Linked DNA regions of Homo sapiens: region 1 is linked to region 2. A link means that fine-mapping ties the variant in region 2 to the expression of a gene that starts in the linked region. Tissue or cell type: lymphoblastoid cells. Region 2 holds a variant in brackets; the other region holds the start of a gene. All regions are shown on one strand. Distances are between the middles of the regions.

Evidence for each region. PIP is the estimated chance that this variant, and not a neighbour inherited with it, causes the effect.
Region 1: it holds the start of TRIP4, and the variant in region 2 is fine-mapped to the expression of TRIP4 in lymphoblastoid cells (GTEx, PIP above 0.99).

Annotation. Positions count from the first base shown.
Region 1 is chr15:64,384,704-64,392,798 of GRCh38, reverse strand. TRIP4 (thyroid hormone receptor interactor 4) reads right to left here and starts at 4,963. Exons shown (of 13, transcript NM_016213.5): 1 at 4,835-4,963. The coding sequence starts at 4,935. It also overlaps a transcript of PCLAF not described here. RefSeq lists enhancers at 4,247-4,747, 4,677-5,166, 4,748-5,248.
Region 2 is chr15:64,732,301-64,740,402 of GRCh38, reverse strand. RBPMS2 (RNA binding protein, mRNA processing factor 2) reads left to right here. Exons shown (of 8, transcript NM_194272.3): 8 at 1-512. Among named protein-coding and RNA genes, the nearest start is that of MIR1272, 26 kb to the left of the region's middle. RefSeq lists enhancers at 3,266-4,245, 7,166-7,814, 7,815-8,102. The variant A/C (reference allele first, on the strand shown) is at 4,743.

The sequences.
Region 1 (8,095 bases), 350 kb after region 2:
TAGAAGAAAAATTAAAATTAGCCAGGCATGGAGGCATGTTCCTGTAGTCCTAGCTACTTGGGAGGCTGAGGTGGAAGGATCCTTTGAGTCTCAGAGGTGAAGGCTGCAGAGCCATGATTGCACCACTACATTCCAGCCTGAGCAACAGAATGAGACTCTGTCTCAAACAAGCAAAAACGGTGGGGCATGATGGCTCCCAGCACTTTGGGAGGCTGAGGCGGGTGGATCACCTGAGGTCAGGAGTTAGAGACCAGCTTGGCCAACATGGTGAAACCGTCTCTACTAAAAATACACACACACATACACACACCCCCCAAAAACAGGCATCTTCTAATTACTATGGATTAGAAAAGACAATGGTTTTTCAGGACTTACACATTTTAATCATCTTGATCCCCAAACTTACCAGTCCCCACCAAAAGATTAACTGCTATCAAAGACTTGCAAAACTGTAAGGAATCCCAAGGGATCATTTAACCCTGGAGGGTTTTTTTGTTTTTTCAGACAGAGTCTCATTTAGTCTCCCAGGCTGGAGTGCAGTGGTGCGATCTCAGCTCACTGCAAACTCCATCTCCCAGGTTCAAGCGATTCTCCTACCTCAGCCTCCTGAGTAGCTGGGATTACAGGCGTGCACAACCACACCCGGCTAATTTTTGTTTTGTTTTGTTTTGTTTTTGCTTTTTTTTAGTAGAGACGGGGTTTCACTATGTTGGCCAGGCTGGTCTCGAAGTCCTGACCTCAAGTGATTTGCCCGCCTCAGCCTTCCAAAGTGCTGGAATTACAGGCTGAGCCGCTGCACCTGGCTTTTTTTTTTTTTTTTTTTTTTTTGAGACAGAGTCTCACTCTGTCACCCAGGCTGGAGTGCAGTGGTGCTATCTTGGCTCACTGCAACCTCTGGCTCCTAGGTTCAAGAAATTCTCCTGCCTCAGCCTCCTGAGTAGCTGGGATTGCAGGCGTGCACCACTGCGCCCGGCTAATTTTTTGAATTTTTAGTAGAGACAAGGTTTTGCCATGTTGGGCAGGCTGGTCTTGAACTCCTGACCTCAAGTGATCAACCCACCTCAGCCTCCCAAAGTGCTGGGATTACAGGTTGAGCCACTGCACCTGGCCAACCCTGGAGTATTTTTCAAACAACCAGGGAAGAGAGTTTCAGAACCATTTGAATAAATGTCATTTTAACTACTTAACAAGGTATAATAAAGAACAACATTCATCCAAATATGTTATATACCAAATCTTATCAAAATAATATGAACTCATCCAGATTGTGGACCAAAGTTTATTTTGTTAACTCTGTGGATAGCTATTTATGTCTTATAAATGTATCACTAATTAGAAAGTTAAGGCCGGGTGCAGTGGCTCACACCTGTAATCCCAGCACTTTGGGAGGCTGAGGCGGGCAGACCACGAGGTCAGGAGACCGAGACCATCCTGGCCAACCTGGTGGAATCCCATCTCCACTAAAAATACAAAAATTAGCTGGGCATGGTGTCACGCGCCTGTAGTCCAAGCTACTGGGGAGGCTGAGGCAGGAGAATTGCTTGAACCTGGGAGGTGGAGGTTGCAGTGAGCCGAGATCCTGCCACTGCACTCCAGCCTGGGCGACAGAGTGAGACTCCGTCTCAAAAAAGAAAAAAAAAAAAGTTAATAGCTCTGTGCTATTTCAAAAATTCAGTCCACTCATATAAAATTGTTCAAGTTAGTACATTACTGTAGTACATACACCTGGGTAATTCTCAATTAAATGCCAGGCAAGGCACAGCAAATGCTTTCATCATGGCATAATAGCCTGTTGTGGAATACTAGTGAATACCTAACAAATGCTTCAAATAGTATCTTAGCGTAATACATGCCGACGGGCACTGACCTCCTTCCCAGGCGGAATATAATTTTTTTTTTTTTTTGAGACGGAGTCTCGCTCTGTCGCCCAGGCTGGAGTGCAGTGGTGAGATATTGGCTCACTGCAACCTCTGCCTCCTGGGTTCAAGCGATTCTCCTGCCTCAGCCTCCCGAGTAGCTGGGATTACAGGTGCCCGTCACCATACCTGGCTAATTTTTTTTTGTATTTTTAGTAGAGACGGGGTTTCACCATGTTGGCCAGGCTGGTCTCGAACTCCTGACCTCAGGTGGTCCACCTGCCTTGGCCTCCTAAAGTGCTAGGATTACAGGCGTGAGCCACCACGCCTGGCCTGAGAACGCATTTTCTTGATACTGTGTAATCCAAACAAAATACAACTGGATTCTAGACTGAGAAGACTACATCTATCATTCTTACCCTATTTCAAATTGTTAATTTATCAAAAATAGCCTCAATCTTTCTTTTTTCCTTTTTTTTTTTGAGACGAGGTCTCACTCTGTCACCCAGGATGGAGTGCAGTGGTGCGGTATCAGCTCACTGCAACCTCTGCCCCGCGGTTCAAGGGATTCTCCTGCCTCAGCCTTCCGAGTAACTGAGATGACCTGCACGCTCCACCACACCCGACTAAGTTTTGTATTTTTAGTAGAGTGGGGGTTTCGCCATGTTGGCCAGGCTGGTCTGAAATTCCTGACCTCAAATGATCCATCTGCCTCGGCCTCCCAAAGTGCTTAGATTACACACATGAACCACTGCGCCTGGCCACCTCAATCTTTTTTTTTTAATACTGTATTTAATATAATACACATATTTAATATATTTAATATAATATTTGATATATTTAATATTTAATATATTTAATATAATATTTGATATATTTAATATTTAATATATTTGATATTTAATATATTACACATATTTACAATAAATATGTGAAAATTGGGCCAGGCGTGGTGGCTCATGCCTGTAATCCCAGCACTTTGGGAGGCTGAGGCGGTTGGATCATCTGAGGTCAGGAGTTCGAGACCACCCTGGTCAACATGGTGAAACCCCATCTCTAGTAAGAATACAAAAATTAGCCAGGCATGGTGGTGCGCGCCTGTAATCCCAGCTGCTCGGGCTGAGGAAAGAGAATCGCTTGAACGTGGGAGGCGGAGGTTGCAGCGAGCTGAGATCGCACCACTGCACTCCAGCCTGGGCAACAGAATCTGTCTCAAAAAAAAAAAAAAAAAAAAGTGAAAATTTTGAACTTATATTCGTAAAAAACACTTTTCTGTTTTATATATTGCAAAGTTTCATTATTTCATTTGATAGCATTCCACTGCTTTAAAAAATGTTTGAAAACTACTAAATACTTAATCTGACTGCGTTCAAGCAAGGGTAAAGCCAAACCATAAGATTTCGCTGTTTTGTTTTGTTGTCTATTCTAGTGTTAAAAAAAATCCTTTATCTTGTTGTTTACTTTTTTTATTTCTGTAGAGACAGGGTCTCACTATGTTGCCCAGGGTGGTCTCCAACTCCCAGTCTCAAGCAATCCTCCCACCTCTACCTCCCAAAGTGCTGGGAATAAGGGCTTGAGCCATCTCCTAGGGCCTCAAAAAAATCCATTAAAATAACCTACTTGAACTGTCTCCTTGCCAAAAGTCTATTTTCTCCGAAACTCAGAAACTCATCTTACTTCCTACAAAAGCCCTAGAACAGCAATTTAGGTTTCAACATCAGTGACCAAGGAATCAAATGAAGGAACACTTTCAGTTCTTCGATCAAGTCCCATTTTTGTAGTTTTCTCCCCTGCCTGAACACTTTGGACCGCCACCTCTGTCTATTCCTTAGTTCTCGGGTGAAAGTTATCCTTTCCAATAAACCTTCCGAGTTTTTCAAATCTTAATGAGAATCCTTTATTTTGTGCTCCAACAAGCCCCTTCATTTCCCCAACCTCAGCACTCATCAACGAAGGGGAACCCAACTGTCTTGTCTTTGTTACCCCAGCACCTGGCGTGTAACAGCAGCGCAACAAATGTTCTTCAATCAGTTGAAAGTAGATATTAAGTCATGTACACCATCTCCATTTCATAGGAGTCATAAAGCATGATAAGCTCTACTAATGATTAATCTTATAAATGAAGAAACCAGGGTACAGAGAGAAAAATTAAGTTGTCCTGGGTTCTAAAACAGGTAAACGACAACAGAATATAGAACCTGAGACTCCAGAGTCAGAAGCTATTTGTACTCTACCACGCTGCTTCCACTTAAATTCTAGGTCCTATTGACACAGCTGACCCTGTTGGCTCTACTGACACAACTCAGATTGGGCCGACTAAAATGTTCAGAGTATATCTGGGTGCGGTGGCTCATGCCTGTAATCCCAGCACTTTGGGAGGTCGAGGCGGGCGGATCACTTGAGATCAGGAGCTGGAGACTAGCCTGGCCAACATGGTGAAACACTGACTCTACTAAAAATTTTTAAAAATTAGCCGGGTGTGGTGGTGCGTGCCTGTAATCCCAGCTACTTGGGAGGCTCAGGCAGGTGAATCACCTGAACCCGGAAGGCGGAGGTTGCAGTGAGCCAAGATCGCGCCACCGCACGCCAGCCTGGGCGACAGAGACTCCGTCTCAATAATAACAACAATAATAATAAATAAATAAAAGAGTAAGGGGTTCAAAGTTAGGAAATACAGTTTGACCTGCCCCTTCTCTCTAGAAAGGAAACTGGCTCCTGGGACAGCCTTGCATTTCTAATTATTACAGATTGGGCGTCTTCCCAGGAAAAAAGCCCGACCGGCAGACTGTGGAGCCGGACACCCTATTCCAGAAACTAAACTACAAAGGTGGAGGCCAAAATTCGACGCCTACAGACTACAGACTGCAGCCCCTTTATCACATTTCTCTCTTAACTTTTCAGTCCTCCCCGCTTCCCGGTTCGCTCAGGCAGTGCACATCCCAGAGCTCCTTCCCCGCTTGGACCCGAACTGTTCTCACTGAATGATCTCCTCGCTGACATCCAGGCCGAAAGTCTTCCGCAACTGCTGGGTGCACCAGTGCACCAGCGGCTCCCCGGACACCGCCCCAGCCACCGCCATCTTCCCCAGCCGGAACCAGCTGAGCTGCAAAAGCCCCACGTCCTGCACCGGACTAGTTCCCTTCGCAACACCAACCTCTCTCACGCGGGTTCCGCCAGCTTGCACCGCCCCGCAAGGTCGCACCGCCTCCAGTGCAGATCCCGCCCATCTGTGCGCCTCCTGCTTCTTCCTGCTTTGTTGTCTACTTCCTTGTGCCCTCCGGAGTCGAGCTCTGTCAGTGCATGATTCTTGCCAATCGCTAAACGTAGGACTCGAGGAAGGCCATTGGCAATTCTGCTAAGAAGACAGTGCAAGTGCCTATAAAAACGACAGTTTAGGGGGAAAACAAACCAATACCCGGAAAGCTGAGAGGCCAGCTTTTTAATCGTCATGGTTTTATGTAAAATAAAACAGCACGTGGAAGGTATTGTAAGCGCTGTAAGTTTTTGCTCTGGTGGTGGTTTTAATTTTTTAATTAATTAATTAATTTATTTATTTATTTTGAGACGGAGTCTCGCACTGTCGCCCAGGCTTGAGTGCAGTGGCATGATCTCGGCTCACTGCAAGCTCCGCCTCCCGGGTTCATGCCATTCTCCTGCCTCAGCCTCCCAAGTAGCTGGGACTACAGGCACCCGCCACCACGCCCGGCTAATTTTTTTTGTATTTTTAGTAGCGACGCGGTTTCACGTGTTAACCGGGATGGAGTGTTTATTTTTAATACCCCCTGTAGTCGACTACTAGATTCACACCGCTAAAACTTCTATTTTATTTTTTGAGCCATGTATTTTCCAGGAGAGCCAAGACAACTCAGCAAGCTCGAGGGTAAAAAACAGTAAAACAGGAGTTGGAATTTGGCTTTGAGGACTTTCCACATGAGTTCTCAACCAAAAATGACAGTATTTAAGGGCTGTCTGCAATTCCCTACCCCGCTAAGACAATGGGCTGGGGAAAATTTAGCCAAACTTTTCTGGAGATCATAATGTCTTCCCATTCATTTCTGGCTTTTTGTTGCATTTGCAGGTTAAAAGTTCTTCATTTCTACTAGCCTGTTTAGACTAAGTGGTCACATTAAATTGGCAGCTGTTTTACCTTTTTGCTAGTGTTTTCATTGGCATAAATATTATAATTAAAATCATGAGTGTATTGGCCGGGCGCAGTGTCTCATGCCTGTAATCCCAGCGCTTTGGGAGGCCGAGGCGGGAGGATCACCCGAGCGCACACGGAGACACACACACAAACACACACACACACACACACACACACACTGGGCGTGGTGGCTCATGCCTGTAATGCCAGCACTTTGGGAATCAGAGGCAAGAGGATCACTTGAGCCCAGGAGTTCCGGACCAGTCTGGGCAGCATAAGGAGAATCCTCATCTCTACAAAAATGAAAAAAATTAGCCTGGCATGGTGGCACATGCCTGTAGTCTCAGCTACTTGAAAGGCTGAGGTGGGAGGATCACTTGGGCCTGGAAGGTCAAGCTTGAAGTGAGCCCTGATTGCACTACTGCACTCCAGCCTGGGCGACAGAGCAAGGCCTTTTTACAAAAACAAAACAAAACCTCATAAGTGTATTGATTTACATTCCATTTAGATTGTCGTAGATATCATTAATTTGGAAAGCAGATGATTTTCCAGGGTTTTTTTTTTTAAGAAAAAGTCAAAATACTCTGTGAATGTTTATTAATTGTGGGTACAAGTTTTGTTTCTTTGTAAAACTCCACTACATTTAATAATAATTGTAAGGTATCAAAGTCATTTACCTGTTTATTTATTCAGTCCCTGTGTTAGGGTTCTCCAGAGACAGAACCAATAGGATAGATAACAGATAGATATAGATACAGATCTATGAGGAGATTTATTAGGGAATTGGCTCAGGAAATTATGGAGACTGAAAAGACCCATGACAGGCCATCTGCAAGCAGGAGACCCTGGAATGCTGGTAGCTGGCTCAGTCCAAGTTGTGAAATCTTCAAGTCTCAAGGTGGAGGGCCTGGAGTTCTGATGTCTGGGAGCAGAAGTCTGAGAAGAGTGTCTCAGCTCCAGAAGGAAGAAATATTTTTTCTCACCTTTTTTGTTCTGGGTCCTTGGTTAATTGGATGGTGCCCGCTCACATTGAGAGCAGATCTGCCCCACTCAGTCCACTGACTCACATGCCAGTCTCCTTTGGAAATACCCTCAAAGGCACCCAGAAGCAATGCTTTACAAGTTATCTAGGTATTTCTTTTTCTTTTTCTTTTTTTTTTCTTTTTCTTTTTTTGAGATGGAGTTTCCTCTTGTTGCCCAGGCTGGAGTGCAATAGTGCAATCTTGGCTCACCACAACCTCCGCCTCCCGGGTTCAAGCGATTTTCCTGCCTTAGCTTCCCGAGTAGCTGGGATTACAGGCATGTGCCACCATGCGCGGCTAATTTTGTATTTGTAGTAGAGATGGGGTTTCTCCATGTTGGTCAGGCTGGTCTCAAACTCCCGACTTTAGGTGATCCTCCCGCCTCGGCCTCCCAAAGTGCTGGGATTACAAGCCCTCTAGGTATTTCTTAATCTGGTCAAGTTGACACCTAAAATTAACCATAACAGTCTCCATAACTAAAACATTAAGTGCTTGAAGGCAGAGACTATGACTTAAGTTTTTTCATATAATATAATTTAGTATGTCATACATGTTATGATAAGTACGTCCTCCAGAATAACATAGGTGGCTGGGTACCGTAGCCCACACCGGTAATCTCAGCATTTTGGGAGGCTGAGGTGGGAGGATTGGTTGAACTCGGAAATTCGAGACCAGTCTGGGCAATATCAGGAGACCCTGTCTCTACAAAAAAAACCTAAAAATTAGCTAGGTGTGGTGGCAAGCTCCTGTGTTCCCAGCTACTTGGAAGAGGATCACCTGAGCTCAGGAGGCGAGGCTGCAGTAAACTGTGATCACACCACTGCACTCTAGCCTGCGTGACAGAGTGAGACCCTGTCTCAAAAAAAGAAAAAGGCATTCTTTTCTCATAAGTCATATGTTAATTATGATGTAATTATAATGCAATTTATTATTACTGTCATTTGTTAAATTACATTTCTGCCTGAGCAATGCAAGCACACCCATTTAGCAAGACTTAAAGATCTCTTTTTTCTTTTCTTTTCTTTTTTTTTTTTTTTTAGACATTCTTGCTCCATCACCCAGGCTGGAGTGCA
Region 2 (8,102 bases):
CCGCTCCTGCCTTCTCGGATGGGCCAACAGTCGTAAGAAAGCCCTCTCTGCCCGTTCTGTTCACCTCTCCACAGCGCACCCCGCCCGCCGCTGCTCCTCATTCTTTCCAAACCTCGAAACCAACCAAAACGTGAGAAGTATTTTTGTACCCTGTGTAACAAAATATTTATGCATCATAAAGGATTTTTCATGTGCGTACCATTAATTATTAAAGCGACCTCGTTCGCCCTGTCAGATAAGTTTAATGTTTAGTTTGAGGCATGAAGAAGAAAAGGGTTTCCATTCTTCAGCAGTACGCCTTTGTGTCTGGCATTTGTTTAAGAAAATGAAATGAAGGAAACACTGTGCAATGTTTTTTGTTTTGAGCATATCAGTGCTTTACTGTCAGCCGCAGCTGTGACCGTCTGGCCATTTCAGACTTGGGAGATGAGGCGGCTGTTGTCATTGCTGATCCTGTGAGAATGTGAAACTGGATAATATATGAAATGCAAAATAAAACAAAACCAAAATGACTGCTCTCGGCCTTTGCTTCCCCCTTCCGTGGACGCAGACTGCCATTGGGAAGGCAGAGCCAGAGAGATGTGGAGTCGGGGGAAGGAAGTGAAGTGGGCCTGGCCCGCTGGCAGCTGGCTTGTGACTGTAAAGGTGGTGGGGGAGGACCTTGGAGCTCACTTAGCCTCTCCTGCCTCCCTGGTTTGTAAGCTGGGGAAACAAAGTCCAGGGTAAGTGACTTGCCTAAGGGCCTGGCAGTTGTGGCTTTACTTCCTCAGTTTCCAGGCTGTCAGGGTAGGGAGAGACTCCCTACACCAAGAGCAGGCCCCCAGGTGGGACCTTCCTGGGGGAAGGCGGTGATATACTCGGCTTAACCATTTACGGCCTGTGGTCTTTTTGAGTCTCGCTCTGGTAAAAGAGGACTGAGGTTTGGGCTGTTGGGCTCTGCCAGGTGGTGTCTGTCCTTGGCGTGCCTCTTGTGAGGCTGTGCTGGAGGGAAGGCTAGGACCTGGAATCTTGCCCAGAAGGGGTTAACCTCATCCACCCTGTAGTCTATGGGCTGCAACTCTGATTCCTGGAGCGGGAGCAAATGGGTGTGAGGCTCAGGGAAGCTGTGCAGTGCCAAGAGCCCAGGCTGGCCTGGGCCAGGTGTCAGGATGCCCGTCATGACCCTCAGTCTTACCTTTTGTGACTTGGGGTCTCGGGTTCCTTGTCTGTGAAGAGGTTGCTTGAAATCCTTTCAGACTCTTACTGGAGGGCTGGTGTGCTGAACTCAGGGTTTAACTGTTTGTTTTTTCATCCACTCCTGGGAGAGCTGCTCTGCACCGCACCGCACCTCAGACCCAAAGCCGTGCCTGGAAAGGGAGGACAGCAGAGGCCCCGGAACCCCCCTCCCAATAGGTGTTGCTCCAGCCTTGCTCTAAGCAAAACTAAAGTGGCTGTGGCTGGCTCTGGTCACTTCCTCACTTGCACCTCAGGTCACCGCTCCCCGCCTTACCCCGTCTCCTGAATCCCAGTCCTGCACAGGTCGGCTTGGGTCTAAGATGTCAGTGCTGGTGAATGCGTCAGCTGGCGACCCAGGTGCTCTGAGGGAGGAGGAGGAGGAGCCTGGCCAGGACCAGGCCCTGCAGGTAACCCTGGGTGTCTGTGGGCGAGTTACCTGGACCTCAGAGGGTGGCTGTGTTCGTGCCCAGAGGAGTCCGGGGTTACTCGTCTCCCGCGCTGTGCCCCTTGCCTCGCTGCAGTATCGGACCAGCTGGCAAGGCCGCCCAGCCTTCAGCCCCTGCCTGTGCTGGTGGGAAAGCTGCTCTGTGTCCTATGGCCCCCACCCAGGGCCAAGCCGAGGGCTGACCTACTTCATCTGTGTCAAGAACCAGTGGGTCTTCCTGAGGTCGTGAATTATTTAGCGAAGGTGCCTGGGCCTTTCTGAGAGGGGCTAAGAAAGCTGCTCTATAATTTAAAGCCCCTGCGCCTGCGGCTTCCCTGGGGGGCCTCCTTCACGCTTTAGCGAGCAGGGCCCAGGCCTGGGTCTGAGTGGAGGAGGAGCCGGGGAAGGAGGAGCCCTGCAGCCATTCCAGAGGGCACTCTCAGCTGGACTGGGGGCTTTTCTCAGTGTAGGGCCTCTGCAGAAAGGCCTTAGTGAGCAGTCATGTTTAGACTGAACTTGGGTTAAGGAGCCTTCAGTAGATCAGGGCTTCCTGGCTGGGGTCAGAAGCACCTGTGTCCTGATTCCCTGTCCTGCTCTCTTTCCAGAAAGCAGCTCGTTATCCCCAGAGGTGTTGAGTCCTGATCACAGTTGAAAGTGTTCCTTCCCTTCTGAAAGGGAGTTAGGCATCTGGGAACCACCAGCATTCTTTCCCCCACTTCTCCCACCCACAGATGAGTCTCACTGTCGCCCAGGCTGGAGTGCAGTGGCCTGATTTCGGCTCACTGCAACCTCTGCCTCCTGGGTTCAAGCCATGCTCCTGCCTCAGCCTTCCAAGTAGCTGGGATTACAGGCATGCACCAGCACACTGGGCTAATTTTTGTATTTTTAGTAGAGATGGGGTTTCACCATGTTGGCTAGGCTGGTCTTGAACTCCTGGCCTCACGATCCGCCTGCCTTGGCCTCCCAAAGTGCTGGGATTACAGGCGTGAGCCACCATGCCCAGCCTCCACCAGGGTTCTTTTGGTGTGAGGTCCCTTCCCAGCAGCGATGAAATCCCCTCGTTGGCAGGAGAGGCTGTCTTTCCATGTAATCCCCTCCCTGCAAGCACACAAGTGAGGCCAGTACTAAACAGATGCTTGTGAGCCACTGGGAAGCCCCTGATGCCCCCCTGCCCTGGCCAGAGCCAGCTCTTCTCGCAACAGAGATGGTGCTTGTCACCCTGACTGAACCATCGTTGGGTGCTGCTGCCTAGCCAGCATTTTTCTTTTTCTTTTTTTTTTTTTTGGAGACAGGGTCTCTCTGTTACCCACGCTGGAGTACGGTGGTGTGATCATGGTTCACTGCAACCTCTGCCTTCTGGGCTCAGTTAAACCTCCCACCTTAGCCTCCAGAGTAGTAGCTGGGACCACAGGCACACACCACCATGCCTGGTTAATTTTTGTATTTTTTGTAGAGACCCGGGGGTTTCATCATGTTGGCCAGGCTGGTCTCGAACTCCTGGGCTCAAGTGATCCTCTTGCCTCGGCCTCCCAAAGTGTTGGGATTACAGGCATGAGCCACCATGCCCAGCCCTGGCCAGCGTTTTTAAGGGATGTGACTTATCTTGGAGCTTTCCCAGGCAGGTTCCTAGGTTCCAGGCTGTGTGGCCTGACATGATGCGTCCCTGGGGATCAGTACAAGGTAAGAGTGCAGGCCGCATGGGGTCCAGAGTTCTGGGACAGGGGTGGGAGCGGGGGTTGGGGGGTGATCCAGGCCTCCCTCCTGCCCACCGTTCCGCCCCACCCTGCCCTGCCCACACGTGCCCCGCAGAGCTCCATTTCCTGAGGTCTGGAATAAAGCCTTTGGATCTTGAGTTCTTTGTCAGAGGGCAAATATCCCTGAGAAACCAGGCTAAGTCCGTCAGAGGAGGGAAGTAGGGCAAGTGCCGGAAGGGGACTGAGAAAGGGAAAGGTGGAAAATGGGAGGATAAAGCCTCCTGCAAAGGTATCAGGAGGAGGGAGCAGAGCCGCCCCACTCAAGCTGCAGGCCTGCCCTGCCTCACATCCTCTGTGCCAGCCTCCACCCAGGTGGCCCTGCAGGAGTGCAGGCCCCACCCCAACACCTTCTCTCAGGCAGAAGAGGGGCTCCAGGAGCAAGGGGAGCAAGGCTGAATGGGATCACTGCCCTGGCAACTTTCCAGGGCAGCCAGGAGAGGGGCATGTGCTCCTGGTCCATTCCATACCCCGTCCCCCACCTCCTTGACCATCATCCCCTAGTTCCCTGGCCTCTGGTTGGGGTGAGGGAGCGGGAGCCTCTGCAAGAGTTTGGAGGGAGGTCAGGTGCCCTTGGCCATTATCTTCATGACCTTCCAGCCATCCCCTTAAATCTGTTCTTTTGAGAGGCCCTTCAAATGACCCCAGGAAACCAGGGTCAGACATTGGCATTGAGGATTGAGTCCACCCAGCTCTCCCATTCACAGATGGAGAAGGTGAAGCACAGAGGTGAGTAGTTTGCCCTAAAGCAAGCCCTTTTTTGTTATGGAGACAGTGACCAGTGCATGCTCCACTGGTGTCTCTGTCTTCCAGTCAGTCCAGCACCCCACAGGGCAGGCAGGCAGCAGACACCTCACCCCACAGGCTTGGAAGCCTCTCCCTGCAGTGCTAGAGCCATGGTTACAGCTCAGGGCTGCTGGCTGCAGACCTCTTCTTGGCATGCCATACTTTCTTGTCTTCTGTCTTGATCTAAATATGACCCCATCTTTCCCTGGGACACTGGGTCTTACTCCCTGATTAAAGGACAAAGAGAAGCCCTCAGTGACCCATCTAGCCTCAGCCTAGCATTGTGTAGTCTCTGGCCTTTAACCCAGTGATTAGGGTTGTTGGACGTGCAGGATTCATCTGGCTATCAGCTTATGCAAGAACAAAGATGGTGTATCTCCATTTCTGCCTGTAGTAGAGAATATGCAGCAGCTTAGTAGGAGGAGCCTAAGAGACAGGAATGGCTGTCTCATCCCAGAAAAGCCTGTGCCTTCCCTCGGAGTGTGTGTTTCTGTTTTTTTTTTTTGAGACAGAGTCTTGCTCTGTCGCCCAGGCTGGAGTGCGGTGGCGCGATCTCTGCTCACTGC[A/C]AGCTCCGCCTTCCAGGTTCACATCATTCTCCTGCCTCAGCCTCCCAAGTAGCTGGGACTACAGGTGCCTGCCACCAAGCCCAGCTAATTTTTTGTGTTTTTTAGTAGAGATGGGGTTTCACCATGTTAGCCAGGATGGTCTCCATCTCCTGACCTCATGATCCGCCCGCCTTGGCCCCCCAAAGTGCTGGGATTACAGGCGTGAGCCACCACGCCCGGCCAAGGAGTGTGTGTTTGTGACTCTGTTTCCTTCCCTCACAAGGTTATGAGCTTTAATGATGACACAATAACGTGCCTAACACATAGTAGGTACTCCCTAAATGTTTTCTATGCTTATCTTTTTTTTTTCCTTTTTTTTTTTTTTTTTTGAGATGGAGTCTCGCTCTGTCGCCCAGGCTGGAGTACAGTGGTGCAATCTTGGCTCACTGCAACCTCCACCTCCCAGGTTCAAGCGATTCTCCCTGCCTCAGCTTCCCAAGTAGCTGGGATTACAGGCGCCCACCACCACACCTGGCTACTTTTTATATTTTTAGTAGAGATGGGGTTCGCCATGTTGGTCAGGCTGGTCTCGAACTCCTGGACTCAAGTGATCTGCCTGCGTCAGCCTCCCAAAGTGCTGGGATTACAAGCGTGAACCACCACGCTTGGCCTGCAGTTATGTTAAAAAGATAATATTTCCTTCATCCTTAAGAAGCAGTGAAATTGAGTCGATTCCAATTGACGTACTCCTTGACTGTTTTTTCAATGGATCAGTAGTCATTGAAAGATTTTTAACCCCATGTTCTACCTGGGAGGAAGGTGAAAGAAGGACAGGGTGGGGCCCAGGAATCTAGGAGAACACACACAAAACCCTGGAGCTAGTAGTTTTTGGCACTGGATCTAACTGTAGCTTTTTTTTTTTTTTTTTTTTTTTGAGACAATCTCACTGTGTTCCCCAGGCTGGAGTGCAGGGCATCATCTCAGCTCACTGCAACCTCCACCTCAGCTGGGTGTGGTGGCACATGTCTGTAGTCCCAGCTACTTGGGAGGCGGAGGTAGGAGAATCGCTTGAAACTGGGAGGCAGAGGTTGCAGTGAGCTTGAGTAGCTAGGATTATAGGTGTGTGCCACCATGCCTGGCTGATTTTTGTATTTTCAGTAGAGACAGGGTTTCGCCATCTTGGCTGGGCTAGTCTTGAACTCCTGACCTCAGATCCACCTGCCTCAGCCTCCCAAAGTGCTGGGATTATAGGTGGACTTCTAACCTTTTTATCAAGCCATTTAGGGCTTCAAAGTTCTGACAGTAGTTGTATTCATACACTGCTTCAGAGTTTACAATACATACGTTTGCTATCGCCCATGATTGCCATAAAAAGCCTGCTGACATACATAAGAAAGGTGTTGGCCAGGCGTGGTGGCTCACGCCTGTAATACCAGCCCTTTGGGAGGCCAAGGCGGGCGGATTGCTGGAGGTCAGGAGTTCGAGACCAGCCTGGCCAACATGGTGAAACCCTGTCTATACTAAAAATACAAAAATTAGCCAGGTGTGGTAGCATGTACCTGTAATCCCAGATACTAGGGAGGCTGAGGCAGGAGAATCACTTGAACCTGGGAGGCGGAGGTTGCAGTGAGCTGAGACCATGCCACTGCACTCCAGCCTGGGCAACAGAGCAAGACTCAGTCTCAAAGAAAAAAAAAAAAGGAAAGTTTTACTTATCTTTTTTTTTCAGACAGAATCTCACCCTGCTGCCCAGGCTGGAGTGCAGTGACCCGATCTCAGCCCACTGTAACCTCAGCCTCCCAAGTAGCTGGGTCTACAGGCGTGCACCACCACACCTGGCTAGTTTTTGTATATTTTGTGGAGCTGGGGTTTCTCCATATTGCCCAAGCTGGTCTTGAACTCCTGAGCTCAAGCAATCTGTCCTTCTCAACCTACCAAAATGCTGGGATTATAGGTGTGAGCCACCATGCCCATCAATCATCTAATTTTACAGCTATGGAAACCAGAGTTAGAAAGGCTTCACCATGGCTAGGTGTGGTGGCTCACCCCTGTAATCCCAGCACTTAGGGAGGCCGAGGTGGACGGATCACCTGAGGTCAGAGTTCAAGACCAGCCTGGCCAACATGGTGAAACCCCATCTCTACTAAAAATACAAAAATTAGCCAGGTGCGGTGGCACATGTCTGTAGTCCCAGCTACTTGGGAGGCGGAGGCAGGACAATCGCTTGAAACTGGGAGGCAGAGGTTGCAGTGAGCCGAGATCATGCCACTGCACTCCATCCTGGGTGAGAGTGAGACTCCATCTCAAAAATAAATAGATAAATAATAAAAACCATCACATAGTAGCCTGGTTAAGAAATAGGCCGAAAACGCCTGGGCGTGGTGGCTCACGCCTGTAATCCTAGCACTTTGGGAGGCTGAGGTGGGTGGATCATGAGGTCAGAAGTTTGACACCAGCCTGGCCAAGATGGTGAAACCCCGTCTCTACTAAAAAATACAAAAACTAGCCAGGCGTGGTGGTGGGCACCTGTAATTCCAGCTACTCGGGAGGCTGAGGCAGGAGAATCGCTTGAACCCAGGAGGTGGAGTTTGCAGTGAGCCGAGATCATGCCACTGCACTCTAGCCTGGGCAACAGAGCAAGACTCCATCTCACAAGAAAAAAAAATGAAAAAGAAATAGGCTGAAAACAAAAATAAAAACCATCAAACAGAAAAACCCTGCAACCACTTGAATATGTGAGGGCAAATTGAGGTGAATTGAGTTTGTTCTCAATCACTTAACATTACCAAGTGGAATAAGAGAGAAGGAAAGAGCTAAGTCCATAGGCTGCTACAAGGTAGTCCTGCCCTGATCCTCGAAGCTGTCCTGGGAAGGCTGTTTGCGAAGGATCATTTCCATCCCATGGACAGGAAGTTCAAGTTCAGAAAGGTGCCAAGGTCATGTTTGATCATGATGAGCTGAGCCAGAGCCCTGAGCTCTGGTCTGCTGCCCTCAAGGGGGAAGGAGCACGCTGACTGACCTTTGCATCCTCTCTTGTCCAGTCATTCTTTCCAGCAAACATTTTTTGTGCCCCTGCCCTTTGCTGAGCCTGTGTTTGGTGCTGAGATGGAGGATAAGGCACAGTTTCTGTTCTCAGGTGATGCACAGCCTGGAGTGTGGGAGTCTGGGCTGTGGAGCTACTCAAGCAGGGAAAGCTGGGGGTTATTGGTTCTAAACTTCCGCTCCTCTCTTTCCCCGGAGGCTGGGCTGCTGCCCACCTTACCCACAGGTCCAGAGTACTGCTCTGGGTCCCATGGTATCGTGGTTCTGTGCTTGGCCTCGCAGAACTGCATGGGTGGTGTAAGAGCTGTGCACAGAGGAACATGCCTCATCTCCCACCTC